Linked DNA regions of Homo sapiens: regions 1, 2 and 4 are each reported to be linked to region 3. The links are microRNA targets in miRTarBase. Many come from high-throughput screens and were not tested one by one. Region 3 holds a microRNA gene; each other region holds the end of a gene's coding sequence.
Evidence for each region. The annotated mature microRNA hsa-miR-1827 reads UGAGGCAGUAGAUUGAAU and lies in region 3 at 3,814-3,831, shown strand. An mRNA with a match to its seed (bases 2 to 7 or 8) in the 3' UTR can be bound and repressed. Matches are read on the target gene's strand: a 7mer-m8 pairs with bases 2 to 8, a 7mer-A1 pairs with bases 2 to 7 and ends in A, and an 8mer does both.

Region 1: the mRNA of CENPN is a reported target of hsa-miR-1827. Seed matches in the 3' UTR shown: 7mer-m8 at 1,783-1,789, 8mer at 1,809-1,816 and 8mer at 2,865-2,872.
Region 2: the mRNA of SNRPD1 is a reported target of hsa-miR-1827. Seed matches in the 3' UTR shown: 7mer-A1 at 2,971-2,977, 7mer-m8 at 3,251-3,257, 8mer at 3,277-3,284, 7mer-m8 at 4,665-4,671 and 8mer at 4,691-4,698.
Region 4: miRTarBase lists HIRIP3 as a target of hsa-miR-1827. Seed matches in the 3' UTR shown: 7mer-m8 at 1,885-1,891 and 7mer-m8 at 1,949-1,955.

The regions. Positions count from the first base shown.
Region 1 is chr16:81,027,878-81,034,877 of GRCh38, forward strand. It overlaps CENPN (centromere protein N), which reads left to right. Exons shown (of 11, transcript NM_001100624.3): 10 at 294-420; 11 at 692-3,608. The coding sequence ends at 774. CENPN-AS1 (CENPN antisense RNA 1) reads right to left here. Exons shown (of 4, transcript XR_007065134.1): 2 at 6,878-7,000. Among named protein-coding and RNA genes, the nearest start is that of ATMIN, 4.5 kb to the right of the region's middle.
Region 2 is chr18:21,628,271-21,635,881 of GRCh38, forward strand. SNRPD1 (small nuclear ribonucleoprotein D1 polypeptide) reads left to right here. Exons shown (of 4, transcript NM_006938.4): 4 at 792-5,250. The coding sequence ends at 868. Among named protein-coding and RNA genes, the nearest start is that of SNRPD1, 20 kb to the left of the region's middle.
Region 3 is chr12:100,186,119-100,193,729 of GRCh38, forward strand. MIR1827 (microRNA 1827) reads left to right here and starts at 3,766; the gene lies at 3,766-3,831.
Region 4 is chr16:29,987,207-29,994,817 of GRCh38, reverse strand. It overlaps HIRIP3 (HIRA interacting protein 3), which reads left to right. Exons shown (of 7, transcript NM_003609.5): 4 at 1-912; 5 at 1,010-1,178; 6 at 1,261-1,359; 7 at 1,448-2,488. The coding sequence ends at 1,611. It overlaps TAOK2 (TAO kinase 2), which reads right to left. Exons shown (of 16, transcript NM_016151.4): 16 at 6,425-7,611. The coding sequence ends at 6,838. Among named protein-coding and RNA genes, the nearest start is that of HIRIP3, 4.6 kb to the left of the region's middle. RefSeq lists enhancers at 710-1,210, 1,211-1,711, 3,399-3,986.

The sequences.
Region 1 (7,000 bases), not on the chromosome of region 3:
TATTTTTAGTTAAGACGGGGTTTCACCATGTTGGCCAGGCTGGTCTCAAACTCCTAACCTCAAGTGATCCACTCGCCTTGGCTTCCCAAAGTGCTGAGATTACAGGCATGAGCCACTTTGCCCGACCTGCCCTCTATGTTTGCAGTTAGCAGATTAAATGGTCCCCACCCCTGTTAATTCCTGTATTTCTTAATGGCAAGAATTAATGAAACGTATCATTATGATTTCATTATATTTTACCATTCGTATTTATACAATATGTTTAATAGTCATTTATAAATGTTTGTTGACAGCTTGAAACGAAATTCAAAAGTGGTTTAAATGGGAGCATCTTGGCTGAGAGGGAAGAACCCCTCCGATGCCTAATAAAGTTCTCTAGCCCACATCTTCTGGAAGCATTGAAATCCTTAGCACCAGCGGGTGAGTGGTCAGCTTACTCTATAAGCTAGAAAAATTAACAACATGCCTCCATTCCATCCTTATAATCTGCTAATTACTTCTGAGCTCACCCATCACCCTAGTCTGCTAGCCCATCCTGCTCTCTCTTGCATCTTCTGCTTCTGTACTTAATAGGGAGGAGGGGCATCTATGATCCACCCTCTAATCTCAGCCATTTTTAAACTGACTCAAATCCATCCTCCTGTGATGACTTTTAATTTTCTTTTTCCCTTTTTTTTTTTTTTAATTTCAGGTATTGCAGATGCTCCACTTTCTCCACTGCTCACTTGCATACCCAACAAGAGAATGAATTATTTTAAAATTAGAGATAAATAAGACGTGCGTGGTTTCTTAAGCACAGCTCCTCCTTCTTGATATTGCACATGCACTTCAGTTCATGGCTAGCTGTATAGCTTCCGTCTGTAAACTTGTATTTTCAAGAATCCTTGGTATTGAATTTTTAGAAATGCTCACATAATTGTTGGGACTGATTCATTCCTCCACGATATGCCTCCTCTCTCTGATATCCTGCTAACTGTAGCCGTTGTGGCATTTGAGATGACAGGACATATATATATATGGCCCCACACTTGACCTTGAGTGCCTGAATGCTCTGAAATCAAGCATATGGCACAGCGCTCAAGACTTTTGGGTTTGTGTCCTTTTTTCTATGGCTGTCTCTTCTCAATTCTGGAGAGGTCTGGTTCCAGTGGCTGGTTTCCAGGGATTGATTCTTAAGCTCTGGATCACAGAGAGAAGCAACAAGGAACTATACTCAACTCAAAACTTTTTAGGAGAATCATGAAATTGGTCTATTCAAAGGATGGAGTTGAGTCCATTCTGTTATTGTTGCAAGAGGTTGCATATTTGGTGAGTCAGTTATATAAAATAGTGTTCTTATTGTAAATATGATACTTCTCATAATCTATTTTATCATGTGTATAACATTCAAACTGACAAATATATTGACTTATGAATAAAGGTGTCAAAAAACTGGCACATCAGTTAATTTTGATCAAAGTACTTCAGTGATCATCACTAAATACCCTATCTTTTTAAAAATTTTTTCCTTTCTAATTTTTTATTTCTTTATTTATTTATTGAGACAGGGTCTCACTGTGTCACCCAAGCTGGAGTGCAGTGGCATGATCATGGCTCACTGCAGCCTGGACCTCCCAGGCTCAAGTGATCCTTCCACCTCAGCCTCCCGAATAGCTGGGATTACAGACGCGCTCCATCCTGCCCAGCTAATTTTTTTTTTGTTTGTTTTTTGTTTTTTGAGACAAGTCTCCTTCTATCGCCCAGGCTGGAGTGCAATGGCACAATCTTGGCTCCCTGCAACCTCTGCCTCCTGGGTTGAAGAGATTCTCCTGCCTCAGCCTCTGAGTAGCTGGGACTACAGGCCTGCACCACCATGCCCAGCTAATTTTTGTATTTTTAGTAGAGACAGGGTTTCTCCATGTTGCCCAGGCTGATCTCAAACTCCTGGGCTCAAGCAATCTGCCCATTTTAGCCTCCTAAAATGCTGGGATTATAGGAGTGTATTAGTCTATTCTCATGCTGCTAATAAAGATACCTAAGACTGGGTAATTCACAAAGGAAAGAGGCTTAACTGACGCACATTTCCACGTGGCCAGGGAGGCCTCACAATCATGGTGGAAGGCAAATGAGAAGCAAAGTCATGTCTTACATGGCGGCAGGCAAGAGAGCTTGTGCAGGGAAACTCCCATTTATAAAACCACCAGAGCTCATGAAACTTATTCACTACCATGAGAATAGTATGGGGGAAATCGTTCCCATGACTCAAGTATCTCCACCTGGCCCTGCCCTTGTCACATGGGGGTTATTACAATTCAAGGTGACACTTGTGTGGAGACACAGCCAAACCATATCACAGGCATGAGCTACCACGCCCGCCAGCATGTCTTTTTTAAACATTTTAAAATCTATTCTTTATCTTGTTTCAGAGAGGATTTGGAGTTACAGAAACACATTAGACTGGGCATGGTGGCTCACACTTGTAATCCCAGCACTTCAGGAGGTTTCTCCTAGTGTACTCTCACACTTCTGATACCAGATATGTGGGGGAGGGGGTTTCCCCCACACATTAAGCAAGTGTGAAACATGATATAGAAAAATGACTTCACTCTGGGCCGGGTGTAGTGGCTCACGCCTGTAATCCTAGCACTTTGGGAAGCCGAGGTGGGCAGATCACCCGAGGTCAGGAGTTCGAGACCAGCCTAGCCAACATGGCAAAACCTTGTCTCTACTAAAAATAGAAAAATTAGTTGGGGGTAGTGGCAGCCGCCTGTAATCCCAGCTATTCGAGAGGCTGAGGCAGGAGAACTGGTTGAACCGGGGAGGCAGAGGTTGCAGTGAGCCAAGATCATGCCACTGCACTCTAGCCTGGGTGACAGAGTGAAACTCTGCCTCAAAAAATAAAATAAAGGCCAGGCATGGTGGCTCACGCCTATAATCCCAGCACTTTCAGAGGCCAAGGCAGGTGGGTCACAAGGTCAAGAGTTTGAGACTAGCCTTAGCAACATGGTGAAGGTGAACCCCGACTCTACTAAAAATACAAAAATTAGCTGGGCCTGGTGGTGTGCACCTGTAATCCCAGCTACTTAGGAGGCTGAGGCAGGAGAATCGCTTGAACCCGGGAGACATAGGTTGCAGTGAGCCGAGACTGCACCACTGCACTCCAGCCTAGGTGACAGAGTGAGACTCCATCTTAAAAAATAAATAAATAAAATAAAATAAATGACATCACTTTGGTTCAGAGCTCTAAAATGGAGGGAGGAAGCCATTCTAAAAAGGACTCCCTACATGACCTGCAACTTGAAAAAAAATTAAAAGCTCCAAAAAAAAAACAATACAGGAGCTTACCTTGAACCTTTGAATTGGGCCAAATTGCGATGACCACTGCATCCTGGAAAATTTTATTTCACCAGCACTACAACTCCTCAACAGCACCAACCAATAAACTATGGATTTTTGTACTAAGCCAGTTGCCTCTTTCAAAACAACTTGTCAACTTGTCTAATCACCCTCAGCTTTTTTTAAAAACCCCTCCTCTACCCTCTCTCTTCAGAACACAAGTGGCTTCTAGCTGAATCTGTCTCCCAAATTGCAATTCCTAAGACCTCAATAAAAACACCTTGTCTTGCTGCTTTGCAGTGTGGTCTTTTGCCCCTTGGATGACATTAAATGGTGTCAGAATTGAGTGGGACAAAAAAGCAACTCCCTTCTTTGTTCTGGTGCGGCCACGGATTCGAGCACAGTTCCTGCAGGAGGAACCCCTTGTGTTCCACACCTCTCCCATGGCCACGGATTCTGTTTACGAGTTGTCTCATTCCTTAACCCCCTACCTTGGTTGAGGTTCTTTATCCAACGTCCTTGGTTGCCAGCTGTCCAGTAGCTGGGATTACAGGCACGTGCCACCATGCCCAGCTAATTTTTGTATTTTTAGTAGAGACAGGGTTTCACCATGTTGGTCAGACTGGTCTCAAACTCCTGACCTCAAGTGATCCTGCCGCCTCGGCCTCCCAAAGTGCTGGGATTACAGGTGTGAGCCTCAGTGCCCAGCCAAAATTCTATTTAACTTGATTTTTCTCTTCATGGCCAACTCACTGTTTCATTTGTGAAACTACTAGGGAAATTTCAGACTAGGGAATATTGAGGCACAGAAAATGATGGTACTTTGGCATGCTGGATGCTTTTGAAAATGGAAAGGCCTGAGAAATACACTTGAGAGTCAAGGTCCCTCCAACCTTGTCTTATTCTTGCCTCAACCAAGGGCAGAGAGGAACTCCCTCTGGAATTTCCTTGTCTGACTAAGAAAGCTTCTTACTAAAAGAAACACAGTTGCCTTCTATTCTGTCCTTCAAATCTCATTATCTATCAAAAAATGAAGACTGAGGAATAGAGCCACATATGGATGGACCTTTTCATAAGGCCTGCCCCTCAGGCTCATTCAGATTCCAAAGAGAATCATTTACAAGTTAATTTCTGTCTCCCTGGTCCATTTACTCTCCCTTATAATAATTTACTGCTCCTCAGAAGAATTACACACGTTCCCCATCTCCTTACTCTCCTATGAAAAAGGGTATATAAGCGTCCACACCCCATTGGGGGTTGGGGAATCATCACTCTGATGCCTCCCCTCCCCACCAGGCACGTTAATAAAACTTGTATGTCTTTTCTCCTATTAATCCGTCTTTTATCAGTTGATTTTCAGTGTTTTTTTTTTTTTAGCACTTGTTTGCAGGATCCAAAAGCTGCTCTGCTATTCTGGAAGCCACAGTCAAGGGACCCAGGACCCGAGCAGCTGGCAGAAGGACTTGTACCTTCTGTTTGTCCCATTGTATCCAAGATGTTAAAATCATGATGTCACAACATTTAGACATTTAAATGGTTAATCAAATGTATGTCTCTCCTGATATACAGCTAACTGCTATAGACTAATGCAGGCCTCCTTGTTAAAATGGACCCTTTGTTACTCAAATTTGACCAATCTTGGAAGCTTGGATGTGCACTGACTTGACAACCACTTTTTGTGGGACATAACACTCTAGACACAGGTGCTTCTAGCTCTAAGGGGAACAGATAACTAATCTGTGGCCAACCAACCAATGATTAATCAGCTATGCTGCCTCGGATCTTGATCAAAAAAGGAAAATGTGAAAAGTGATACACAAAATGGCATCACTTTGGTTCAGAGCTCTAAAATGGAGTTGGGAAGCCATTCTAAGAAGGACTGCCTGCACAATCTGCAACTTGCAAAACACAAAAACAAAAAATATGAACTTGCCTTGAAGCTTTGAACTGGGCCAAAACTGCAATAACCACTACATCCTGGAAAACTGAATTTCACCAGTGCTACAACTCCTGAACAGCGGCAACCAATCAACTATGGATTCATGTACTAAGCCAGCCACCTCCACCAATGATAATTCTTTCAAAACAATTTGTGTATTAACCCTCTGCTTTCTTTTAAAAACATCTACTTCTCTCCCTCTTTTCAGAACCCCATTTGGCTTCTAGGTGAATCTGTGTCTCCCAAATTGTAATTTCTAAGACCCCAATCAAAATGCCTTGTTTGGCTGGACGTGGTAACTTGCATCTATAATCCCAGCACTTTCGGAGGCCGAGGCAGGTGGATCACTTGACCCCAAGCTGGCCAAAATGGCGAGACCCTGTCTCTTTTCTTTTTTTTTTTTTTAATTAAAAAAAAATGCCTTGTCTTACTGCTTTGCAGTGTGGTCTTTCACCTCTTCTTTTTTTTTTTTTTTTTTTTGAGACAGTCTTGCTCTGTCACCAGGCTGGAGTACAGTGGTGCGATCTTGGCTCACCACAACCTCCGTCTCCTGGGTTCAAGCGATTCTCCTGCCTCAGCCTCCTGAGTAGCTGGGATTACAGGCGTGCGCACCACACCCGGCTAATTTTTGTATTTTTAGTAGAGACAGAGTTTCACCATGTTGGCCAGGATGGTCTCGATCTCTTGACCTCGTGATCCGCCCTGCCTCGGCCACCCAAAGTGCTGGGATTACAGGCGTGAGCCACCATGCCTGGCCCTTTCACCTCTTCTTGGTTGACATAAGCAATCAGTTCTACAGCAGATACCAGCTGGGTATGCTCCAGTTCAATTCCAACACTAACTACCTGGCGATATCATCAGACCCCATAGGTTAAGGGCTCAGTCCCACAAAACTGCCACCCACTTCTGAGGCCAGTTGCCAGCCCCAGGTTGTTTCACCTGCGCTTCTGACTAACCAGCTATAAATTGCATTTCCCACAACCCTCTCTTCATGTTCAATTAATTTGCTAGGGCAGCTCACAGAACTCAGGAAGACACATAGACTGACTTCTTACAAGGGATGTTACAAAGGATTCAGATGAAAAGATGCATAGGGCAAGAGCTTCCACGCATGCCCTCTTTGAGTGCGCCTCCCTCCAGGAAACTCCATGCATTCAGCTATCTGGAAGTTCTCCAAACCCATTTCTTTTGGGATTTTATGGAGGCTTCATTACCTAGGAATGATTGATCAGCTTAAGCTTCAGCCCCTGTCTCCTCCCCAGAGGTTGAGGGGGAGGGCTGAAAGTCTCAAGCCTCTAATCCTACCTTGGTCTTTCCAGTGACCAGTCCCATCCTAAAGCTACCTAGGGACTGTGAGTCATCAGTCAACTAATTAGCATACAAAAAAACACCAATTTGCTGATTCCAAGGATTTTAGGAATTGCATGCCAGGACAAAGACCAAATATATACTTCACATTATCACAGTTATCTTGCAAGGCAAAGGGACTTGGCAGTTGGAGAAATTATCCTGGATGATTTGAATGGGCCCAATGTCATCACAGGGGGCCTCAAGAATAGAAGAATCAGAGGGATCACTACTGAAGAAATCAGAGTGATGTGATGTGACGAAGACTCAACTCACCGTTACTGATTCTGGAGATGGAGGAAGGGTCCGCAAGCCAAGGAATGTAGGCAACCTCTAGAAGCTGGGAAAGGCAAGTGAACAGATTCTCCCCTGGAGCCTTGGGAAGGAATACAGCCCTGC
Region 2 (7,611 bases), not on the chromosome of region 3:
TCAGGAGGCTTAGATGGGAGGATCACTTGAGCCCAGGAGTTCAAGGCTGCAGTGAGGTGTAATTACACTCCAGATGGGACTACAGAGTGAGACCCTGTATTTAAAAAACAAAAACAAAAACATTTAGAATGTGACTGACTTCTATGTCAAGATTTTCTAATATTCTTAGCTGTCTGAAGATGAAATAAGTTTATTTGGGTCATGAATTCCCTATCACCATGATACTCAACTAGAGTTAGGATGACCCAGTAGGGATATTACTATTTGGATTAAAGCACTAGATTATGTGTAGGTCAAATGAGTTTTAATTTTCTGAAGAGTTAATAAGATTGTGATTTGATGTAATACATTTAAACTTTCCTGGTTTTGAATTAACTTGCTTGGATTTTATTCAGTTACCAAAACTCTGGCATCAAGGTGATCATGTTTTATTCTGTGATATATATCTTCCCTTTTTTTGTGAGGTTCAAATCATTTTATGGTGAATTTGAGACATGATATAAAGAAAAAGTATTTTTAAATTTGACACATTTCTTAGTAAATAAATTGAAATGAAACAAATAATAATCTCCCTAGGCCTTTAGTTATTGGTTCTGCATGATAATGTGTTGGGGGGTGGAGGGAATCTGAAGTCTAACACATTTAACAGAAGCTAGTTAAACTTTATTTACTGTAGCTACTAATAAAGAGCTATAAACAGGGAAAGGTGTGTGTGTAAATGTTGTTTGTGGTGTCTAGGTAACATTGGTGCAGGAGAGAATTGAACTTGGTTTGTTTTTCTTTTCCTTCAGTTGCAGGAAGAGGCAGAGGAAGAGGAAGAGGAAGAGGACGTGGCCGTGGCAGAGGAAGAGGGGGTCCTAGGCGATAATGTCTCTCAAGATTTCAAAGTCATATGAGATTTGGGATATTTTTTGTACAGGTTGTGTTTGTTTATGTCAGTTTTTAATAAACATAAATGTGGGACAGAGCTGTCTATTTAGTATATCAAAGTTTTAGTAGTTTCCTCCACATTCACGAAATTACCACAGTGAGAGCTAAGCATTTCTACTGGGCAGTTTCATTTTTAGTTGATCAGGTTTTAAGTTTTTGAACTAAAATTTTTCTTTTTCTTTTTATGATGAATAAGGTTAAAATAAAAGCCTTAGACAAATTAAATTTGGCAGAGTTTAATTGAGCAAAGGACAATTCACAAATCAGGTAGCCCCTGAACCATAATAGGCTCAGAGGCTTCAGCCCAGCTGCATAGTTGAAGATTTATGGACAGAAGGAAAGTGATGTATGGAAAATGGAAGTGAGATACAGCAACAGCCGGATTAGTTACAGTTCAGCGTTTGCCTTATTTGAATATGGTTTGAACAGTTCGCTGTCTTTGGTTGGCTGAAACTTAGTGATTGCCACAAGAGTAGGGTACCGTCTGTTTACACGTCCAGTTAGGCTACAGTTCTATGTACTGAGAAACCTTTAAGCTGAACTTGAGATATGTAAAGAGACTTTAGGCTAAACTTAACAATATATATAGGATATATACCCTTCTACTTCACATGCACTGAATATGCATTTTATTGCTTTACTCTTCATTCTGTGGCACCTACCCACAGGGGAAGTAAGAAGTTTGTTTTGGTATTTCGGAAACTAAAGTCCTTATGGGATGGGGTCTAGAATTGATTCTCCTTTCCTGAGTTTTACTCCACGGAGTCTTAGGTACCTGGTAAAAAGTTGTCTTCTAAATTAAGGGTCATTGCTTTGTTGTCTAGCTGCTAATGTCTTACTTTTGTTTCTTTTGCTTTTTAATCAGTTCTTAATAGGATATAGTTTTATGTTTTCCAAGTTATAACTTGGAGTTAATGGTCACTAGATTATCAGTTATGAGCAGTGTTAAAATCTCCTATTAATGTGTAATGTACCTGTCAGTGCCTCCTTTATTAAGGGGTTCTTTGAGAATAAAAGAGAAAAGACCTACTTTATTTGACAGCAAAACTGTTCTAATTGTTAATAAGGACTTTTAAAAATTGTTTTTGATTTGCTAAGCTCAGAAAAAATGTCTCTCAGTGCATCAGTTCTTTGTAAAGCTTACTACGAAGTATTTATATGCTAAGGAAAACAACTGAGGATGTGGGTGGCTTAAATCTGTATTTTCATCATGTATGTGAGTTTTTTTTTTTTTAAGTAAAGAAATTTTCTGCAAAGATCGTTACCTTAAAAAAGTTTAGCCTGGGTGTGGTGGCTCACGCCTGTAATCCCAGCACTTTGGGAGGCCGAGGCAGGTGGATCACGAGGTCAGGAGTTGAAGACCAGCTTGGCCAAGAGGGTGAAACCCCATTTCTACTAAAAATACAAAAGTTAGCCAGGTGCAGTGACAGGCGCCTGTAATCCCAGCTACTCATGAGGCCGAGGCAGGAGAATTGCTTGAACCCAGGAGGCGGAGGTTGCAGTGAGCCGAGATTGTGCCACTGCACTCCAGCCTGGGCGATGGAGTGAGACTACGTCTCAAAAAAAAATCGAGAGAGAGATATATATATGTATTTATATATATATGTATTTATACTAATATATAAATATATACTAATAGATATATTAGTATACATGTAGAATGTACCTGTCATATATATTAGATATATAAATGTATATATTGGTATAAATAAATACTAGATATATATTTTTTTAAGTATCTTACCTCATCAAGTAAATTCAAATGCTTTTTGATTTTTCCACAGTTGATAATTTTTTTTTGTAAGTCATTGAAGTTATATAGTAATTAGCGTTTTTTCCCCCACAAATTATTGGCAGTGGTCACCCAGTTGTATTACAGGTTCTATGATCCAAAAAGGGATGTATGAAATTCATGATGATTAAGACAATTTTTTCTTTCTTTCTTTTGAGACAGAGTCTTGCTGTGTCACCCAGGCTGGAGTGCAGTGGTGCGATCTTGGCTCACTGCAACCTCTGCGTCCCGGGTTCAAGAGATTATTGTGCCTCAGCCTCCAGAGTAGCTGGGATTATAAGCGTGCGCCACCACACCCAGCTAATTTTTTTGTATTTTTAGTAGAGACGGGGTTTCACCATGTTGGCCAGACTTAAGACAATTCTTTAATAGTAAATATATTAAAGGTGAGTTGGCTTGACAAGATACAACCAATATGTAATTTTTCTCCACACGTTTTTTTTTTTTTTTTTTTTTTTTTTCTGGAGACAGTCTTGCTCTGTTGCCCAGGCTGGAGTACAGTGGCGCGATCTTGGCTCACTGCAAGCTCTGCCTCCCGGGTTCAGGCCATTCTCCTGCCTCAGCCTCCCGAGTAGCTGGGACTACAGGTGCCTGCCACCACACCCAGCTAATTTTTTGTCTTTTTAGTAGAGACGGGGTTTCACTGTGTTAGGATGGTCTCGTTCTCCTGACCTCATGATCTGCACGAGGCCTCCCAATGTGCTGGGATTACAGGCGTGAGCCACCGTGCGTCCCCGGCCTATACCTTTCATTAATTAATAAGCTGGGGGAATAAATAACTGGATTTCATTCTTTTCCATCTTCTGACCTGTTGGTGCTCCTATTGCTTGTATCCAAGTAGAAGGCAAAAGGCAAGAGACCCCTGTAATGCAGCAAGTGGAGAGATTTGTTGAAGGGGTCAAACAAAACCCTGCAAGAGTAGGAAATAAACAGTTGGCTCCTGTCCTCGTGGAGCTTATAGACAGAAGCAGATAACAAATAAAAATTGGAGCTTAGTGCCGTGGTGCACACTTGTAGTCCCTGCTACTGGGGAGGCTAAGGCAAGAGGATCGCTATAGCCTGGGAATTTGAAGCTGTAGCGTGCTATGATTGCAAGCAGCCTGGGTAACCTAGTGAGACCTGGCTCTTAAATTTAAAATTTAAATGAAAATGGCCACTTAGCATAAGAGATCTAAAATTACGTTTTGTCCTGGCATGGTGGCTCATGCCTGTGACCTCAGCACTTTGGGAGGCCGAGATGGGCGAATCACTTGAGGTCAGGAGTTCGAGACCAGCCTGGGTAACATGGTGAAACCCTGTCTACTGAAAATACAAAAATTAGCTTGGTGTGGTGGCGGGTGCCTGTAATCTCAGTTACTCAGGAGGCTTAGGCAGGAGAATCACTTGAACCCTGGAGGCAGAGGTTGCAGTGAGCTGAGATCACACCACTGCACTTCAGCCTGAGTGACAGAGCGAGACTGTTTCAAAAAAAAAAAAAAAATTTGTTTTGAGAGTTTTTGTGTCTAGGATGTTTGCAGTGTGAAGCCAGTCTAGTAACAGTTTAAATGTAATAATAAATCACAGTGGGTACTAGATTGAGTTTATTCCACTAGAGGTCATTATTTCATTTCCATGTGAAAGGGCTAAAATTGGGTGAAGAAAAAGCTATTTGAACTGATTACCATCATTTGCTATAAAGGAAGCATTATAGTATGAATAGAAAACAGACTAGAGTTTAACATGCTTCTCTTGACCCCTCTTCACCACCCCCTAAAAGGCAGATGGGATCTTAGGACTGCAGCATTTTGTACACATCTGATATTTAATGAGATGTTACATATGAACTTTAGTTTTTTTTCTTTTCTTTTCTTTTCTTTTCTTTTCTTTTTTTTTTTTTGAGACAGAGTCTAGCTCTGTCACCCAGGCTGGAGTGCAGTGGTGCAATCTCGGCTCACTGCAAACTCTGCCTCCCGGGTTCACGCCATTCTCCTGCCTCAGCCTCCTGAGTAGCTGAGACTACAGGTGCCCACCACTATGCCCGGCTAATGTTTTGTACTTTTAGTAGAGACGGGGTTTCACTGTGTTAGCCAGGATGGTCTGAATCTCCTGACCTCGTGATTCGCCCGCCTCGGCCTCCCAAAGTGCTGGGATTACAGGCGTGAGCCACCGCGTCCGGCCGAACATTAGTTTTTAAAGAAATGTATTATGAATATAGATAGAAAACCCAAAGTGAAGGAATAGAAAATGAAATATCAGTTTCTTTTAATCTATCATAATTATGTGAGCATAACTTAGTATTTTGAAATAGATTAATGTAGTCAGCAAACAATTCATGTATTACCTATAATAGATATCATACATATAACATTTAATAACATACAGTTCTTGTTCCTGAAGACTTAACCTAGAAAATAACTCCATAACAAGAAGAATCTCTGTCATAATAAACCAACAGCAGACATTTTCTAAAGGCATTAAAAGTATATCTGATACTGGCCTTTATTAATGTGAAATTCTTGTGGATCTGTGAAATAAAGAGGAGTACTTTCTTTTCGTTTTTTTTTCTTTTCTTTTTTTTTGAGACAGTCTCACTCCTTCATCAAGGCTGGAGTACAGTGGTGCGATCTTGGCTCACTGCAACCTCTGTGTCCCGGGTTCAAGCAATTCTCGTGCCTCAGCCTCCCGAGTAGCTGGGATTACAGGCATGCACCACCACACCCAGCTAATCTTTGTATTTTTAGTAGAGACAGGGTTTCACCATTTTGGCCAGGCTGGTCTCTAATGCCAGACCTCAAGCGATCTGCCTGCCTCAGGCTTCCAAAGTGCTGAGATTACAGGTGTGAGCCACTGCGCCCAGCCAATAGGAGTACTTTTGAAAAGGAAGATAAATTTTTTTTTTTTGAGACGTAGTCTTGCTCTGTCACCCAGGCTGGAGTGTAGTGGTGCAATCTCAGTCCACTGCAAGCTCCACCTCCCGGGTTCATGCCATTCTCCTGCCTCAGCCTCCCGAGTAGCTGGGACTACAGGCACCCACCACCACGCCTGGCTAATTTTTTGTAGTTTTAGTAGAGACGGGGTTTCACCGTGTTAGCCAGGATGGTCTCGATCTCCTGACCTCGTGATCCGTCTGCCTCAGCCTCCCAAAGTGCTGGGATTACAGGCGTGAGCCACCACACCCGGCTGATAAACTTTGTAATACTAAGTTCTTTCTGTGTGGGAACATAGTAGTGTTCTCTATCTGAACCAGCTTTTCTTCTCAGTGAAGTTTTAGGGTTTTGTTTACGTATTCCATATATTTTGAGAAATGTTAATATACAGTGAGATTCAGTTTATGAAGAAAATAGTAATAATAGCAAGGCTGTAGATACCCAGTGCAGTCAATTCTTGGAATTTTCAGTAGTTGTGTAAAGTTGCTGTTAATACTAAACCACTACTTCTAGGGAAAATATAGGGTTAAGTTCCTGCAAGCCTCTAGTCACATTTTCATCAACCAACCAATACATAACCTTGTTTTATGAGTGTTTCTGTTTAGAGACATATATAGTAGTATATGTAATACATATATACTACTGATTTGTTAATTCATGGCTAGCAGCACTAACTCATCCATGAACAAAGCTTATCTAACACTTATTTTCTCAAAAAGGCACATCATAGCCTTCTTGAATTTAGGAACACGACAGCACTAAACCTGGGGGCCATTTTAAATGTCTCAAAAAAAAAAAGAACAGTTAAACAGGCTTGTTTAGGGTCTTTGCCATCCCACAACACACGCTGCCTATGCACAACTAGTGTTTTCCTACTTCTGTGGCTTTGTGCTTGTCTTTCCTCTTCCTGTAACATCCTCACCTTCCCAAGTTCTCTGTGTTTGTCCTTAAGAATCCTGTATCATTATAGCTGAAAGACATTACAGACCATCTAGTCCTTGCCTTCTGTTTTCAAGTTGAGCAAACTGAAGCTGACAGAGGTGGAACTTATTTGCCCAAGGGCCACAATAAGCCACTGGTGTCTGGAGGATGCACGGGCTCTGTGCTTTTCCTACCTCCTAGGATGTATTCCCCAGTTGCCCTCCTTCACTCCCTGTCACAGTCACTGATGGCTTCCCTTTGTGTGGGTTTTCTCTGTGCTAAGCTGTTCTGTACTACTCAAATGCTATTCAGCATATATCCTTAAGTCTTGCTGTCTTGTTCAGTTTGTCTCCAGCCGATTTTAATATTTTTAGGGTAGAAATCTTTTCTTCTTTTCTTCCTTTTGTATTCTCCATTATGTGTCTCCCTCCCTCCCTCCCTTCCTTCCTCTTCCTCTCTCTTTTTTTTTTTTTCTTTTTTTCTTTTTTTTTTTAGACGGAGTCTCACTCTGTTGCCTAGGCTGGAGTGCAATGGCATGATCTCAGCTCACTGCAATCTCTGCCTCCCGGGTTCAAGCAGTTCTCCCATTTCAGCCTCCCTAGTAGCTGGGACTACAAGTGTGTGTCACATGCCCTGCTAATTTTGTACTTTTTTTTTTTTTTTCCGAGACGGAGTCTCACTCTGTTGCCCAGGCTGGAGTGCAGTGGTGCGATCTTGGCTCACTGCAAGCTCTGCATCCCGGGTTCACGCCATTCTCCTGCCTCAGCCTCCCGAGTAGCTGGGACTACAGGCACCTGTCACCATACCCGGCTAGTTTTTTGTATTTTTAGTAAAGATGGGGTTTCACCATGTTAGCCAGGATGGTCTCGATCTCCTGACCTCGTGATCCGCCCACCTTGGCCTTCCAAAGTGCTGGGATTACAGGTGTGAGCCACTGCGCCCGGCCAATTTTTGTACTTTTAGTAGAGACGAGGTTTCACCATCTTGGCCAGGCTGGTCTGGAACACCTGACCTCGCCCACCTTGGCCTCCCAAAGTACTGGGATTATAGGTGTGAGCCACC
Region 3 (7,611 bases):
TTGAATTCTGATAACCAGCCAGAATTTACGAGTTGACAGAATTGTTGGGAAATGTTCCATCAAATCTCTTCCGAGTTAACTCCTCCACAAACTGCCTGCACAGCCACATTTTAGGCAACACCACAACCTCTTCAGCAGTGGGATGACATGGCAGAGGCAGAGGGTTTGCACTTGCCAGGACTTCGTGTACGGGAGGGAGGTAGGCTACCACTGCTGCCAGCTCCCTCCCTCCCTCCAGACTACAAGCCCTGTTGAGGGAAACAAAGGTTGGGGGTCCAGGGAGGAGGTTGTTGGGGGAGTTTCCTCTGTAGCCATCCCAATAAAGTTGACTCAGTATTTCCTCCTCCACAAATTAATTCCTCAAATATATTCTCACAAGGACAGAGATATATATATATATATATACATATATACACACACAAGGATACCACAAAAATGCTATTTGAAATGACAAAAAAAAGTAGAAACAAGCAGATGTCTGTGGCTAGGAAACTGGTTAAATTAGGGCGCATTCATATAACTGAACTCTGTTAGAACAAGAGCTCTAATAAAGACTAACAAGTTAAGACATTCCAGATAAGTGCCTATATAATGCCCCAGTTCAAAGGGGCATGGCAAGTGGCCCTACACTCCCCGCCATTGCTAACCCCTCCTGACTCACCTGCAGGTAAGAGCACAGCTTTGGCATAAGTGGGCCTCATGACATGGTAAATATAGAGAAACTGTGTTTGAAGGAAGAGTGAGTGGAATTCTAAGTCACTGAAATAGCTATACACTAAAACAGTGGATACTGCATGATCCCTCTGTGTAGATCACATATACACCGAGCAAATTTCAGGGTGCATACATAACCAATTTCAGTTCTAGTGGTGACTTCTGGGAAGTGGACTTAGAAGGACTTTCACTTTTAACTGTGCACCCCTCAGCAATGGCTGATTTTTCTTTTTATACACATGCATGACTTTTACAATGAAGTACAAACACACAACTAAGAAGGCAGGCCAAATGGGGAATCTATCAGGTGGCAGGCCTGCAAGCCAGAGGTCATTTGCTATGGTTTGAACGTCCCCTCCAAAACTCATGTTGAAATGTAATTGTCACTGTGATAGTATTAAGAGGTGGAACCATTAAGAGGTGATTAGGCCATGAAGGCTCAGTCCTCACGAATGGATTAACGCTGTTATCTCAGGAGTGGGCCTAGATTCAACTGCAGAAGAGGAGATGGCAATGTGGCCAGGGAAGCAGAGATTACAGCAAGCCAGCCATAGACCAAGCAATGCCAGCAGCCACCAGAAGCTGGAAGAGGCCCGGAACCGACTTTGCCCTGGAGCCTCCAAAGAAACCAGTCCTGTCGACACCTGAACTTAGGCCTAGTGAAGCTGATTTTGAACTTCTGGCCTCCCAAACTATCAGAGAATTAATATGTGTTGTTTTAAAACATCAAGTTTATGGTAACTTGTTACAGCAGCCAGAGCAAATTAATACAATCACTCTCTAAAAAGCTATTGCCCTTCAAACCAAGGACTTTGAGAGGCTGCTTTCTGCTGTGGTCCAGGCTTCAGCTGGCATTCAAGTTTGGAGCATTAATGTCCAAAGTTAGAATATATTTACTTCTGATATGATGTCTTTTGATCCTGAGGATCTGGGAGGGTGTCATCAGAAAGACCCTTTCCAAAATACTCTAGACATTTACCTGGACAGATGAGTACATCATCCTTCCAATTCTAACACATTAGAGCAAACACCTAATAAAACGTGCACAGCCTCAAATAAACCAAACATCTAAGAAACAATACTCTTGTTGTAGAACTTTCAGACAGGTACAGCTCCACTGGTTCCCTACTGCCCAAAGGGCAGACACCCCCACCCCTTCACCCTGGGCTCCCTGGCCTCCTCAGCTCCTCTTCTATCCTCACCCCCTTAAGCACCCTATGCACCTGGCATGAGAACCCATGCCACTTGTGAGACACACCCTGTTCTGACTTCCTTGCCTCTGCATGGGTGTCCTTGAACTTACATTTCCCTTTGGCCAGTCCCTCTCCATCGCTCAAGCCCTTTAAGTCAAAACTCGTCTTCAGAGCAAAACCATCACTAGCCTCTCCCAAAACCCACACCGCAAAGAATAAGCCATTTCTTCCTGGTGCACCCAGGGAGGCTGTGACATGCTGGGTTCAGCCTTGAACTGCACCCTACGGCACCTGTGGCAGAGGACTCACAGGCCTTGCCTGCCTGTCTTCCTGAGAACCCTTCAAACTGCTGAAGGCAGGGAGGGACAGCCTCTTACCCAAGGGAACAACCTCAGCCCCATCCCACAGTGAGGGGGAGAGGAAAATGCAGCAGGGAGGGAGGGAGCACCAGCTGCACAGCCAGGCAGTCCTGCAGAATGGGCTTCTCTAAACTTGAGTGGTGACCCACTGTGGGCCAGGATATCAAATTAAGAAGATAAGAAGTCAATTTTGAGGGGACAAGCATTTTTTTTAGTATTAAAAGAGAAAATAGTACTTAGCTTTACTATATGTAGCAGTGACATTTTTCTTTCAGTTTTATGTACATACTGACAGTATACATTTACATACAAAGGTGTATTATCTGCTGTCGGTTCCCAGTCAAAAAAGTGAACAACACTGTGTCCGAAGGTAACATCCTTCCCAGTGTCCAGAATTGGTTCCTTCTGGTGGGTTCTTAGTCTCGCCAACTTCAAGAATGAAGCTGCAGACCTTTGCGGTGAGTGTTGCAGCTCTTAAAGGTGGCACGGACCCAAAGAGTGAGCAGCAGTAAGATTTATGATGAAGAGCGAAAGAACAAAGGTTCCACAGCATGGAAGGGGACCCGAGCAGGTTGCCGCTGCTGGGTGGGGTGGCCAGCTTTTATTCCCTCATTTGTCCCTGCCCACATCCTGCTCATTGGTCCATTTTACAGAGCGCTGATTGGTCCATTTTACAGAGTGCTGATTGATCCATTTTACAGAGTACTGATTGGTGTGTTTACAATCCTTTAGCTGGACACAGAGCACTGATTGGTGCGTTTTTACAGAGTGCTGATTGGTGCATTTACAATCCTTTAGCTAGACACAGCGCTGACTGGTGTGTTTACAATCCTCTAGCTAGACAGAAAAGTTCTCCAAGTCCCCACTCGACCCAGGAAGTCCAGCTGGCTTCACCTCCCACCAGGAGGCCAAACAAAAAGGACAGTGCTGAGAGGAACCATCGTCCTGCTAGGGAAGGGAGTGTGGCACAAAGGCAGGTGGGTGTGGGCAGACCCCCCCTGCCACGGGTGTGCAGGGCAGAGGATGATGAGCCCCAAGCAGCAGGAGCAGGAGCAGTAGAGCAACTCTGCCCCTGAAAGGGTCTGGAGCCTTCCCTCATCACTCTTCCTCAAGTCGATGCTGGACACCCACTATGTACCAGGCCGTGTGAGGCACTGGGGTAAACCAGAGACAAGACAGACAGGGTCCCTGCCCCATGGAGCTCCCAGCCTTGCAAGGGAGCTAGACCACAGATGAGTACACAAAGAAATACAGTAACTACAGGCAGTGGTAAGGGCTGTGAAGGAGAAGCACGGCAGTGAGGAATGGGAGGAACAGGGAAGGCTTCTCTGAAGAACGAACAGAAGTAACCAGAGAAGAGACAGCCCGCCCTGCAAAGGGACAGCCTGAGGCAGGGCCTGTCGGGAAGACAATACATCTGAAGAACTGCAAGAAGTCAAGTGGGCCTGCAACAGAGGAAATGACAGGAGTCAGACCCCATGGGACCCTGAAGGCCATGTTCAGCAGCACAGCCTTCAGCCTAAAGCAATGAGAAGCCTCTGAAAGGCTGAGGCAGTAGATTGAATTGATTCAGGTCCCTTAGAATTGGGTCCCTGCAACAGGTGGACCCAGGACCGGCAGAGAATGCAGATAGGCGCCCCTCCTCAGCCCCCAACTCTAAATATAACAGAAGACATGGCTCAGTTGCTCCCTTGGTGGCCCTGGACAAGACAGGCTGAAGTTCTCTGAGCCTCCGCTTCCCATGCTGAGTCATGGTGAAAGGTCTCTGAGTCTACAGGCCAAAGCCACTGCTCCTCTCATGACTGCAGTGATTTCCATGGACAGTGTTATGCAACGGCGGCCCTTCTGATACGTGGGGCCCTGGGAGCGTGTGAACTGATCGAGACCAAGAGGACTGATGGGACACAACTGCTAAGCACAACCTCATGCTCCTGGGAGCTATCAAAGAAGACCAGGCACCAATGCAGCAACACACACACACAGCCCAGCCAACTTCCCGCAACTGCTGAAACTCCACGGGCCCAAAAGCAAGTCGCCTTCCTTCCTGCTTCCTTCTCTAGAAGGTCTGGCTTTAAAAATGTCACTGTGAGGCAGCAGCATGGTGACTACATGCCTTGTCTTTCTTGGCAGACAGAGCCATGCCTTCCAACGAGGAAAATTACAAATACCACGTTATGGCTCCTGGACAGGAACAACTTCTCCCAATTCACCAAACATCTGTGTGCCTGCTTTGAGCTGGTTTGCGCCCTCTGCTGCAAACAGGGGCTGAAGAGACGAGTCACTGTCACGACTTTAGAGTCCTAGACACTAAAACCATAATAGATTCTTGGGAACCCCCGCCGTGCTCACAGATAACTCTTTCTACCAGGCCTGAGTGGGTCAAGAATGAAGCAAAAACTAAGAGTCAGAGCAGGGCCAACTGCAGGGCCCGCAGAAGACCTGTGGGAGGGAGGCCTGGAAGGAAGAGCACACCTTCCCGGCCAGCTCAGCCCTCACAACTGCCCTTGAGAAAGGCACCCTGTCCACTCCACCCAAGGGAGTGGAGACACACTTCACCTACTGGCTCAAAAGAGTCAGAGGGGCAACAGTGGCAGCAATGCCAGCAGGCCTGGGGTGTGTAGCCACCATTTACAGAGCACTTACAATCAGTCAGGCAGTGTGCTAGGCATTTCTTATTTGTAACCTTAACAACACTCTCACTGATCCAGAGAGGGAGAGGTTTACACACACACACACACACACACACACACACACACACACACACACTCCAAGAGGATATGAGGGCTTAAAGCTTGGGTTAGGCAATAAGCATCTGGCATCCTCTAAGCATGAAAGGCACAGTAGTGAACTATACTGACAAAATCTCCTCCTAGGAGGTGATGCTCTAGTAGGACACAACAGCAGATGCTCAAAGACTAGATCAGGGAGCAAAACCATCCTGAATCTCTAGCCGACTGAGGGCCCCCTGTGCTGGCTGGTGAGCTACTGCCTACTGGACAATCATGAAAGCCACAGTCTCCCTAGGGATCCTCTCAGCTCCTTGCCCCTCAGATGGTCTCACACAACCGAGTGCTCAGGATGTTTACTGAACTGAGCACTTTAGGCAGAGTATTTCACAGAACACTAGTTAGAAGCCACTAATTAGTCACGACTACCTAGTTTACCATTTCCACAATACATTCATTCTGTGAAAGTAAACGAAACCCAGCTGAGGGCTAGCCTGATACGATATAGGTAAACACCCAATCAAATATCATTAAGACCCCACTACATAAATACCAGAACTGAAAATTGCTAATGAAAATGCCCTTCCCTCTCCCAGTCTGAGATACAATGGCAGGGTCCTTTTCTTTCTTTAGAGGAAGGGGTTGTTACTGTCTATATTTTGTTCTGACTGGAGGTGGGAAGTCTGCACCCCAGTGCCTCAAAGGTAAAAGCGTCTGACCAAGGACACCTGTCTACCCTCATCAGATGCCTCAGTGAGGTGGGAGCTGGTACACCTCCACCCCGAATGCATCTGACCCCTCCTTTCATTTCTCAAGAAATTGTTATCTCCATGGTGGAAGGAAACTGGCAATGTGCATACAAGCAAAGCAAGTGCAGCAGGAGAGAAGTCAATGCTAAGGGCCATTAGGAATCCTTCAGGAAAGGAAGTCCACCGGGGTGGGGCTGGCCCCAGCCACACATACCTGCCAAAGTGAGCTTCATCCATCACAGCACCCCCAACTCAGAAACAATTAAGAAGCAACTGCTCCAAATAGGTTCAGCTTTGCATTTATCTACTTTTAAATGTTTGCCAGTACATAACATATAAATACTTCAACCCTTCATACACAAACAAGATAATCCTCCAACCTAGTTAAATAAAAATACTAGGCATGACTAAACCATCATCAGTGCCACGGTCTGAATGTCTGTGTCCCCACAAAATTCCTATGTTGAGACCTAGTCCCCAAGATAATAGTAGTAAGAGTGAAGCCTTGTGGGAAGTGATTAAGTCATGAGGGCAGACCCCTCTGGAATGAGATCAGGGTCCTTATAGAAGAGGCCAGAGTGGTAAAAGGGATTTCAGGAGAAAAATACACTTAGCTAGGTAGCTAGATACATACATACATATATATGTATACATACATGGATATATACACACATATATATGTATACATAGATGGAGGCCCCAGAGGGAACTTGTCTGTCCCTTCTGCTGTGAGAACACCGCTACAAGGCATCATCTCTAAAACAGAGAGTGAGCCCCCACCAGACACCAAATCTGCTGCTGTCTTCATCTTGGACTTCCCAGCCTCCAGAACTATGAGAAATAAATTTCTGTTGTTCATAAGCTACCTTGTCTATGGTATTTTATCACAGCAGCCCAAATAAACAAAGGCAATCAATTTGGGAGAAGAAGAAGAAAGAAAAGAAACGATTTGTCAAACTCTGCTTAAAACTCTTCACTGACTCCATAGCTCTTAGGACAAAGACCAAAATCCTGCCCTGACCCAAGCCCTGCCTCTTCCAAAGGCTATGTCCCCTTCACCCCTAGCTGCCACCAGGCACTCCTTGAGTCCCACATGCAAACAGCACCCCCACCTAAAGGCCTCTGTTTATGCCACTTCCTCTCCCTAGAACACTTTACTCCCCCTCTCCACGCCCCCCAGTCAACACCAACTCGTCCTTTGTGTCTCAGCTGGAATGTCGCTTCTTCAGGAAAGTCTTTCCTAGCCCTCCCCAACCCCTAAACCACATCAAGATCCTGAACTATACATGTACTGCCTCTCTTTCCTTTCAAACTTCCTAGCACTGGTTGGTGTTTGTTATATTTTATTAATATCTGTTCCCTGGATACTGACAGCTCCACAAGGACAGGGACTATCTTGTCCAGTCATATCCCTAGTGCCTAATCACACACAGTGAGTGAGTGAGTGGGAAGCTCCTGAGGCCTTCCTAGAACGCAAGTCAGTGAACTACAGCCTGGAGTCATTTCCAGCCTCTGCCTATTTCTGTACAATCTACAAGCCAAGAATGGTTTTAACATTTTTATTTTGCTATTTTGTTTTTTTGAAACAAAAAACAGCCTGTCACCCAGGCTGGAGTACAGTGGTGAGAACACAGCTCACTGCAATCTCTACCTCTTGGGCTCAAGCAATCCTGCCTCAGCCTCCCAAGTAGCTGGGACTACAGACATTTGCTACCACATCTGGCCAGTTTTAAAATTTTTATAGAGATGGGGTCTCACTTTGTTGCCCAGGTTGGTCTTGAACTCTTGGGCTCAAGTGATCCTCCCACTTTGGCCTCCCAAAGTGCTGGGAGGAGTACCGGAGTGAGCCACTGTGCCCAGCTAACATTTT
Region 4 (7,611 bases), not on the chromosome of region 3:
GACTACTTTGGACCCCCAGCAAAGAATGGGGTGGCAGCAGAAGTCAGCCCAGCCAAAGAGGAGAATCCAAGGCGAGCCTCAAAGGCAGTTGAGGAGAGCAGTGATGAGGAACGGCAGAGGGACCTGCCCGCACAGAGGGGAGAGGAGAGCAGTGAGGAGGAGGAAAAGGGGTACAAGGGGAAGACTAGGAAGAAACCTGTGGTAAAGAAGCAGGCACCAGGCAAGGCCTCAGTCAGTAGGAAGCAGGCCAGGGAAGAAAGTGAGGAGAGCGAGGCAGAACCCGTTCAGAGGACAGCAAAGAAGGTGGAGGGAAATAAAGGAACTAAAAGCCTGAAGGAAAGTGAACAGGAGAGTGAAGAGGAGATCCTAGCCCAGAAGAAAGAGCAGAGAGAGGAGGAAGTGGAGGAGGAAGAGAAAGAAGAGGATGAGGAAAAGGGGGATTGGAAACCCAGAACCAGGAGCAATGGCCGGAGAAAGTCAGCTAGGGAGGAGAGGAGCTGTAAGCAGAAAAGCCAGGCAAAGAGGCTCTTGGGAGACTCAGACAGCGAGGAAGAGCAGAAAGAGGCAGCCAGCAGTGGGGATGACAGTGGGAGAGATAGAGAACCCCCAGTGCAGAGGAAGAGTGAGGACAGGACCCAGCTTAAGGGTGGGAAGAGGTTGAGTGGAAGCAGCGAGGACGAGGAAGACAGTGGGAAGGGGGAACCCACAGCTAAAGGCTCTAGAAAGATGGCCAGACTGGGCAGCACCAGTGGTGAGGAAAGTGACTTGGAGAGGGAGGTAAGTGACAGCGAGGCAGGGGGAGGCCCCCAGGGGGAGAGGAAGAACCGCTCTTCCAAGAAGAGCTCCAGGAAAGGCAGGACACGAAGCTCCTCTTCCTCCTCAGATGGAAGTCCAGAGGCCAAAGGAGGGAAGGTGAGGGTGAGGAGGGGTGGGAGGCCACTATTAGGGAAGAGGGAGACCCTGCCTCAGGCCCAGCAGGCTTGGCCTTCAGCTGCTCTTTCCTTGCTAGGCTGGCTCAGGTCGCCGTGGAGAGGACCACCCGGCTGTGATGAGGCTGAAGCGCTACATTCGGGCCTGTGGTGCCCATCGAAACTACAAGAAGCTGTTGGGCTCCTGTTGCTCACACAAGGAGCGCCTGAGTATCCTCCGGGCAGAACTGGAAGCGCTAGGCATGAAGGGTGAGGCCCGGCGTGCCCTGGGGGCTGCAGGAGAGGGCCTTCCTGCTGGGGAGGAGAGAATCACCAGCTTCTTCTGCCCCAGGTACCCCTTCCCTAGGGAAGTGTCGGGCCCTGAAGGAGCAGAGGGAGGAGGCAGCTGAGGTGGCCTCCTTGGATGTTGCGAACATCATCAGTGGCTCGGGTAAGGGGTTTCCTCTCACTGCCCAGGAGCAGATAGGTGGGGTTGGACCTTCTCAGACATCTGATCTCTCGTTTCCCCTTTCCCCTAGGCCGGCCACGCAGACGTACAGCCTGGAACCCTTTAGGAGAAGCAGCACCCCCAGGGGAGCTGTACCGACGGACCCTGGACTCAGATGAAGAGCGGCCCCGTCCCGCACCCCCAGACTGGTCACATATGCGTGGCATCATCAGCAGTGATGGCGAGAGTAACTGAGCTCTGCCACCCCCAGGAGGGACCCTTGATACATGTACAAAGCATACATAGCACCCCTTGCCCTGTGTCTGTGGAACAGAAGCAGCTTCCTTCAGAGAAGACTGCAGCTCCCAAGGACACAAGCTGTTGGGATGCTACTTCTCAGCTTCACGCTGTCCCTTTAAGGTGTTTATTTTTTAAGACTCAATAAAGGAGTGTTTTTAATCACCTCATCAAATTTGGTCCCCCATTCTCACCTCCTGTATTTTGGGCCAGGAAACTGAGCAGTAGTCACTGCCTCCACCTCCTCCCCTGGCCTGGTTCCCTTTAATTTCCCCCGGGTTCCTGGAAGAAGTCCCTGCCTCCAGACCCTGTCATCCAACAGCCACCAGACCCTTTTGGAGAAGGGTGTGTGGCTCCTGTGCTGCCCGCCTACCCCGTGGCCCCTCTGCTTTTAGCCTAGTCTGATAACCTAATGCCCACTTGGGAGAGGGATAGAATGACTTGAGGGCAGCCAGTGCTTAAGCCTTCTCCCTTATGCAAACAGCCACTTTGTCCATGGGCTGTTAGCCTCAAAGGGGTGGGGAAAAGCCCATACCTCCTGGGCCAGTCCTAGCCCTCTAGGCCTCTGGCTACAGGCCCAGCCTCTGCAGTCACATGAGGTCTCCACTGAACTCTGGCTGCTGAGGCTTGCGGGAAGATTCGTGAGCATGGAGCTGCCTGGGGTCTGTGTGGGAGGCAAACCTAAGAATCTTTGAAGTCAAAGCAAAGAAAACGAATTAGAGGTCAAGGGGTTGAAGACCACCTTTGAGATCCGAGATCTGGTCACACCTAAAGTCATTAAAATCACTGAAATGTTTAGATACACAGCCCAATAAATTCTCTTTATAAAACACAAGCAGTACTATTCAGTGGCCACTGAGCAGTCCTTCACGCACACCAAAGACAGAAGGGTGAGTCCTGAGATCTGTTAGAATAACCAACAGTTTATTAAAAGCTTGCCTGGGGCTCTGTGCCAGCCCCACAGCTGAGAGGGGCTCCCACGACTGCCCCCCAGGCCTGGGAGCAGCCCCTTCCAAGGTCCTTCCCTTGTTTCCCCGCCCCAGCCCTGATCCCAATTAAAAAAAAAAAAAAAAAGATAAAGGACAAGACGGCACAGGACGTCAGACAGTTACGGGAAGAGACCCAGGCATCCTGACCCCAAGACCCCATCCTGATCCTTCCTGCCAGTAAGGTGGCCTCTCATTCTCCCTGCCTCAGGCCCCAGACCTGCTCTGCCCTGTGGCAGGTCTGAGGGCCTCACTGTGAGGGTAGTATAGTTCTCTGAATATAGTATGTCTAGACCCACCCTTCCCCTCCCCCAGGGGACTAGATGAATATTTGACACGCACATCTCCCTCCTTTCCTAGGTGGCGGAGGGAGACCCCTGGCACCATGGTAGGGAGGCGGGGCTCCCAGGCAGCCTTGAGGCACCTATCGCCAAGCTGGCCCTGGGCCACTGGCCAGCCCCAAGAAGCTCATGAGATGAGGAGGTCTGAGGGGAGCTGGAGCCTACATCTTGTCCCCTACCCTTGCAGGGGCCTCCAGCTCAGTGCCCTCCAGGGTCAGGCTCCACCCACCCCTGCCCTGCCCAGCTCATCTGCTCCTCCCCGCTGCACCTCAGGAATAGAAGTGGGAAGAACCATTGAGGATGTGGGAAGCGACACTGGTGCTGCGGCTCAGGGGCCCGGGCACCGCGGCAGCAGGGGGGCCCACATTCTCACTGCCACTGCCCCCCGAGGCTGCCCGCCGCAGGGGCTGGGGGCTGTTTCTTAGCAGCAGCAGGGCTCCGCCACGGGGTGTCCCACTTTGTGTGGGGGGCCCCAGCCAGTTTGGGGGGCCTGGGGGAGCCAGCAGAGACGGCTGACGCCAGGCTGGAGGGGGCATGCCTGGTGGAGGAGGGCCATGGCTCCAGTGTGCCCCAGAACGGGGAACGGGACGGGAGGGCCAGGCTGGGGCAGGGGGTGGAGCAGGATAGCCCTGGGCAGCAGCTTCAGCCGGGATGCCCCCCAGAGCCATGCTGGAGAAGCCCAGCCTCATGCTTTCCGCATCGAAGGCCTCGATCTCACGGGCCTGCCGCTCAAGCAGACTGCGGATTCGCTCGGAGCGTCCTGTCTGCAGGGCCAGCAGCTCCTCTTCCACCTGGGGCATCCGGAACAGAGGTTAGAGTCGGGGGCAGGAGCCCACCCTCCCTCCCCAGTCCTGGAGGCTGGGCCCCTTACCCGCTGCTCCAGCAGTGCCCGCCGCAGCGCGACCCTCTGCTCCAGCTCCCGCAGCTCCCTCTCGTGCTGGCTCTCTGTGCGGATCTTGATCTTGCTCTGGTAAGCGTTGAGCAGCTCCAGCTCCTGTTGAAGCTGCTGCCGAAGGGCCTGGAACTCTGCCTCCTGGGTCTCATCAAGCCGCAGCTGGGGAAGATGAACAACCAGTTGTAGGGATCTCCTCCCCCACCCCCACTATCCTCCCCTGCCCCAGGTAGGCCTGGGCCCTAAGGTTTCAAGAAGCAGCGGTCTCAACATCTATCAGAATGGAAGATGGTCATACCCTGTGGCACAGCAATTACACTGCAGAATCTATCCCCCAGGTATACTTGCACATGTGCTCGAGGTGTTCACGGAAGCGTTGTGATAGCAAAATACTGGAAACAACCTAAATGTCCACCAATAAGGGATGGGTTAAATAAATTATGGTACAGCCATACCATGGAAAATTCTATGCTGTAAAAAAAATGAGACAGGTGTACTGACAGGGGAAGATGTCCAAGAAATATTAAGTGGAAAAAAGAAGTTACAGAAAGTAAATGTAAAGTATGATTCCATCTGTGTTTAAAATTCATATAATTTTTCAAAATGTGCACTGAAAAAACACAAAATACAGTTAATTATTAACAAGTTACCTGGGAGAGGTGGGACTGGGTGAGAGAACAGCCTTGGGTGGGGCGTTTCCACTCTCCACCCTCTCCGCACATTTTAAGTGGCCCATTCCAGTGTTAGGTGTGATCATTTTTTTAGAACAGCAACTTTCAAAATCCTCCAGAAGTCTGAGTAAATGGGCTTGAGGGCCACACTCACTTTAATCTGCACCCTGTTTACCCATTAAACTAACTCAGGCCCAGGAAAAAAATAATAGCCACTCTTTTCCTTGGTGGTTCTTGGGAATAGGCACATGGCTTTGTCAAGACCTTAAGAAAATACTAAGAGAAAGAATAAAACCACTGAGGAGAATATGAAATAAATCATTGTGGAGAACACGAACAGAGGGAGAGTATGTGAGTTTCCCAAGTAAAAAAGCCCCAGCTCTGTGCATGCCCTGCACCGTCCATTTCTCTAAAGCAAAGTACAGAGCCTGGCCTCTAGCGCACTCCCTCCCTGGACCCCAGGCCTCACCGCCTGTGAGCTGAGCATCTCTGAGATGGACTGGTCATACTGCTCCGCCAAGATCGCCAGCTTGCGGGTCTGCTCTTCCTTGAGCCGCTTAAGGAGGCTCTTGTGCTGAGCTTTGGGCGTGGTCTCCAGCAAGTGTGCTCGCAGAGCCTTGTACTGCCGAGTCTGGATCTTACACGTCTCCTGGAACTGCTTCTTGATCTGCAGCTCCTTAGACTATGCAGTGGACGGATCAAGGGGAGATGGGGGCAGCGGGGAAGAGGAGGAGGAAGAGGAGGAAGAGGAAGAGGAGGAACAACCAGGGGAAATGGGGAGAAGAGAGAGAAGAGGAGAGGAGACAGAAGCAGAGACAGGGAGAGGGAGAGAAACAGAAAACATGTTAGACAGAGGGGGTGGGGGGAGCTGTATACAGACAGACAGACATGGAGAGGTGGGATCGTGTTGAGAGAGATCAGGAAGGTCTCGATGGGCAAGAGATGCAGAGAAGACAAGAGGTTCCAAGAGCACGTGCACGGAGTTGGGTGCGATACCCACGAGAAAGAACATCGGAGTTACTGGACAGGGAACTGAGGATCTTGGAAGCTCTGACCAGGCAAAGAGGGAGAGACTGTGACCTAGAGACAGAAGCACGTGAGCAAATATGAGAACGTGCACGAGAACAAGCGAGAAGAACCAGTCACACAAAACACCCATGAAGAAAGCAACACGACTAAGGACAGACACAGGAAGTCCCAGGTCCAGCAGCTCAGGGAGGAAGGCAGGGAAGGAGGAGAAGCACCGAGCTGAGAAATGGGTAAGAAGGGGCTGCCCCATTTTGGGCCGCAGAGGAGAAAGGGGCAAAGGAGGTGGCCAGAAAGGGCCTGACAAGTTCAACCGGCCAGCAGCTACCACCCTGACCAGATCCGCATTCCAGCCCGGCCCCTCACACACTCAGCTCCCACTCCAGGCCCACACTCAATCCTGCTGCCACAGCCTTCATACTCCGCCTGGTTGCCCCCAGCTCAGCACCCCCTACTGTGGAGGGTCTGCAGCCCCGTCCCCCAACCCACTAGGGTAATGCCTGATGCAGGAGAGCAATTTGGTCCCCTGCAGCCATGGTTGGGAGAAAAGGCAAGGGATGAGGAGACCAAGGGCCTGGAAACTAAGACCTCTGGAAGGAACCCGCAAACAGGCGCTCTGTGGGACCAAGAAGTTCGGTGAAGTTCTACAGGGGCCCAGACCCCAGAGCCGGTGGTGGTCATGGTGCAATGAAGCTATGAAGGCAGAGAGCATGAGGCTGGAGGAGTGAGGGGGCTGAGATAACGGAGATGGGGTGAAGAGGTCATGGAGCCGGGCCGAGGGTCAGCCTGGGGGCATACCGGGGAGGCTAGGCGGCAGGACAAAGCAGACAGAGGCAGCCTGGGCCAAAGGCACAGTTCCGCTCAGATATTTTATTTGTGTTTGTCTTTTTCTTTTTTTGGTGGGGGGAAGGGGACAGGTTGGAAGGGAGACAGAAAAACAAAATCAAAGAGGAGAAAAAAAACATGACTCTTCCCACCCTCCACCACCCCTGGCCCCAGGCCTGAGTCAATGAGGGTGAGGATGAGCACACACAGCGGGCGAACAGCAATAACTTAGGGGAGGAGCGCCAGGAGAACACAGAGTGACTGCTGGACTCCACAGCTGAGGAGGCTGCCTGTCTAGAGGTCCGAAGGGCTGGGCCTGGGGTAAGTGAGCAAACTGAGGAAGGTGGGTGAAAAGAGAGGACTAGGGACTGGAGAAACTTCACTGAGTCGTGGGAGATAAAGTGCTCAATGCTCTAGATTTGGGCTGGAAGGGCTGGAGTCAGCTACCTCCAGGGGGGCAGGGCCCGGGACTGGCGGGTGCGTGACCTCCGCCCGGCTAGAGTCCCTGGCAGTGGCTGGCGGGAGGCAGGGGGCCCTAGCTGGCGCTGGCTGCGTGGTAGTAGCCGGGGGATTCGGGTGGGCCGTTCACCCCGAAGCAGGCCCCAGCTGGCCAGTGTGTGGATGGCCCACGGGGGCAAGTGGGATGCTAAACCCTGGCTGGCCCGTGCCAGACGCCAGTTCCAGCCCTTGCACAGGACCCAGACCCTTGCCAACAGAGCTAATGGGTGTTGGGTGGTGCGGGGATTACGCCGCCGGGGCCCAGGGACGGGCAGGCGGCTGCGGAAGCCATCCTTGTTGGTTTTGGGGTACAGTGCAAACAGACCCCGGTCCCCCACAGCCCCACAGCCCTGCAGGGCCCGGAAGGCCATGGGTGACAGGCGCAGCAGAACCCGCAACCAGAGTCGAGATATGCCCCGGCGCACCCGGGGGCCCTGCTGCCGCACCCATCTGCCCCCCGCTGCCATAGCCACCAGAGGTAGAGCTAGGCCTGGCCAAGCTAAGAGCCAGGCAGCTCCAAGGCCCAGGGGAACACCCATGAGGCCTCGGCGCCAGCTCAGGCCCAGGACGGCCCCCAGTGCGGTACCCTGGGCCAGGAGTAGGAAAAGACTGGAGGGCAGGTGCAGGGCTGTACAAAGGAGCAGGTAGGAGGCCCCCAGACCCACCAGCCCCACCTCAAGGGCCAGCAGCGCTGCCTGCAGGCCACCCCCACCCTGGGC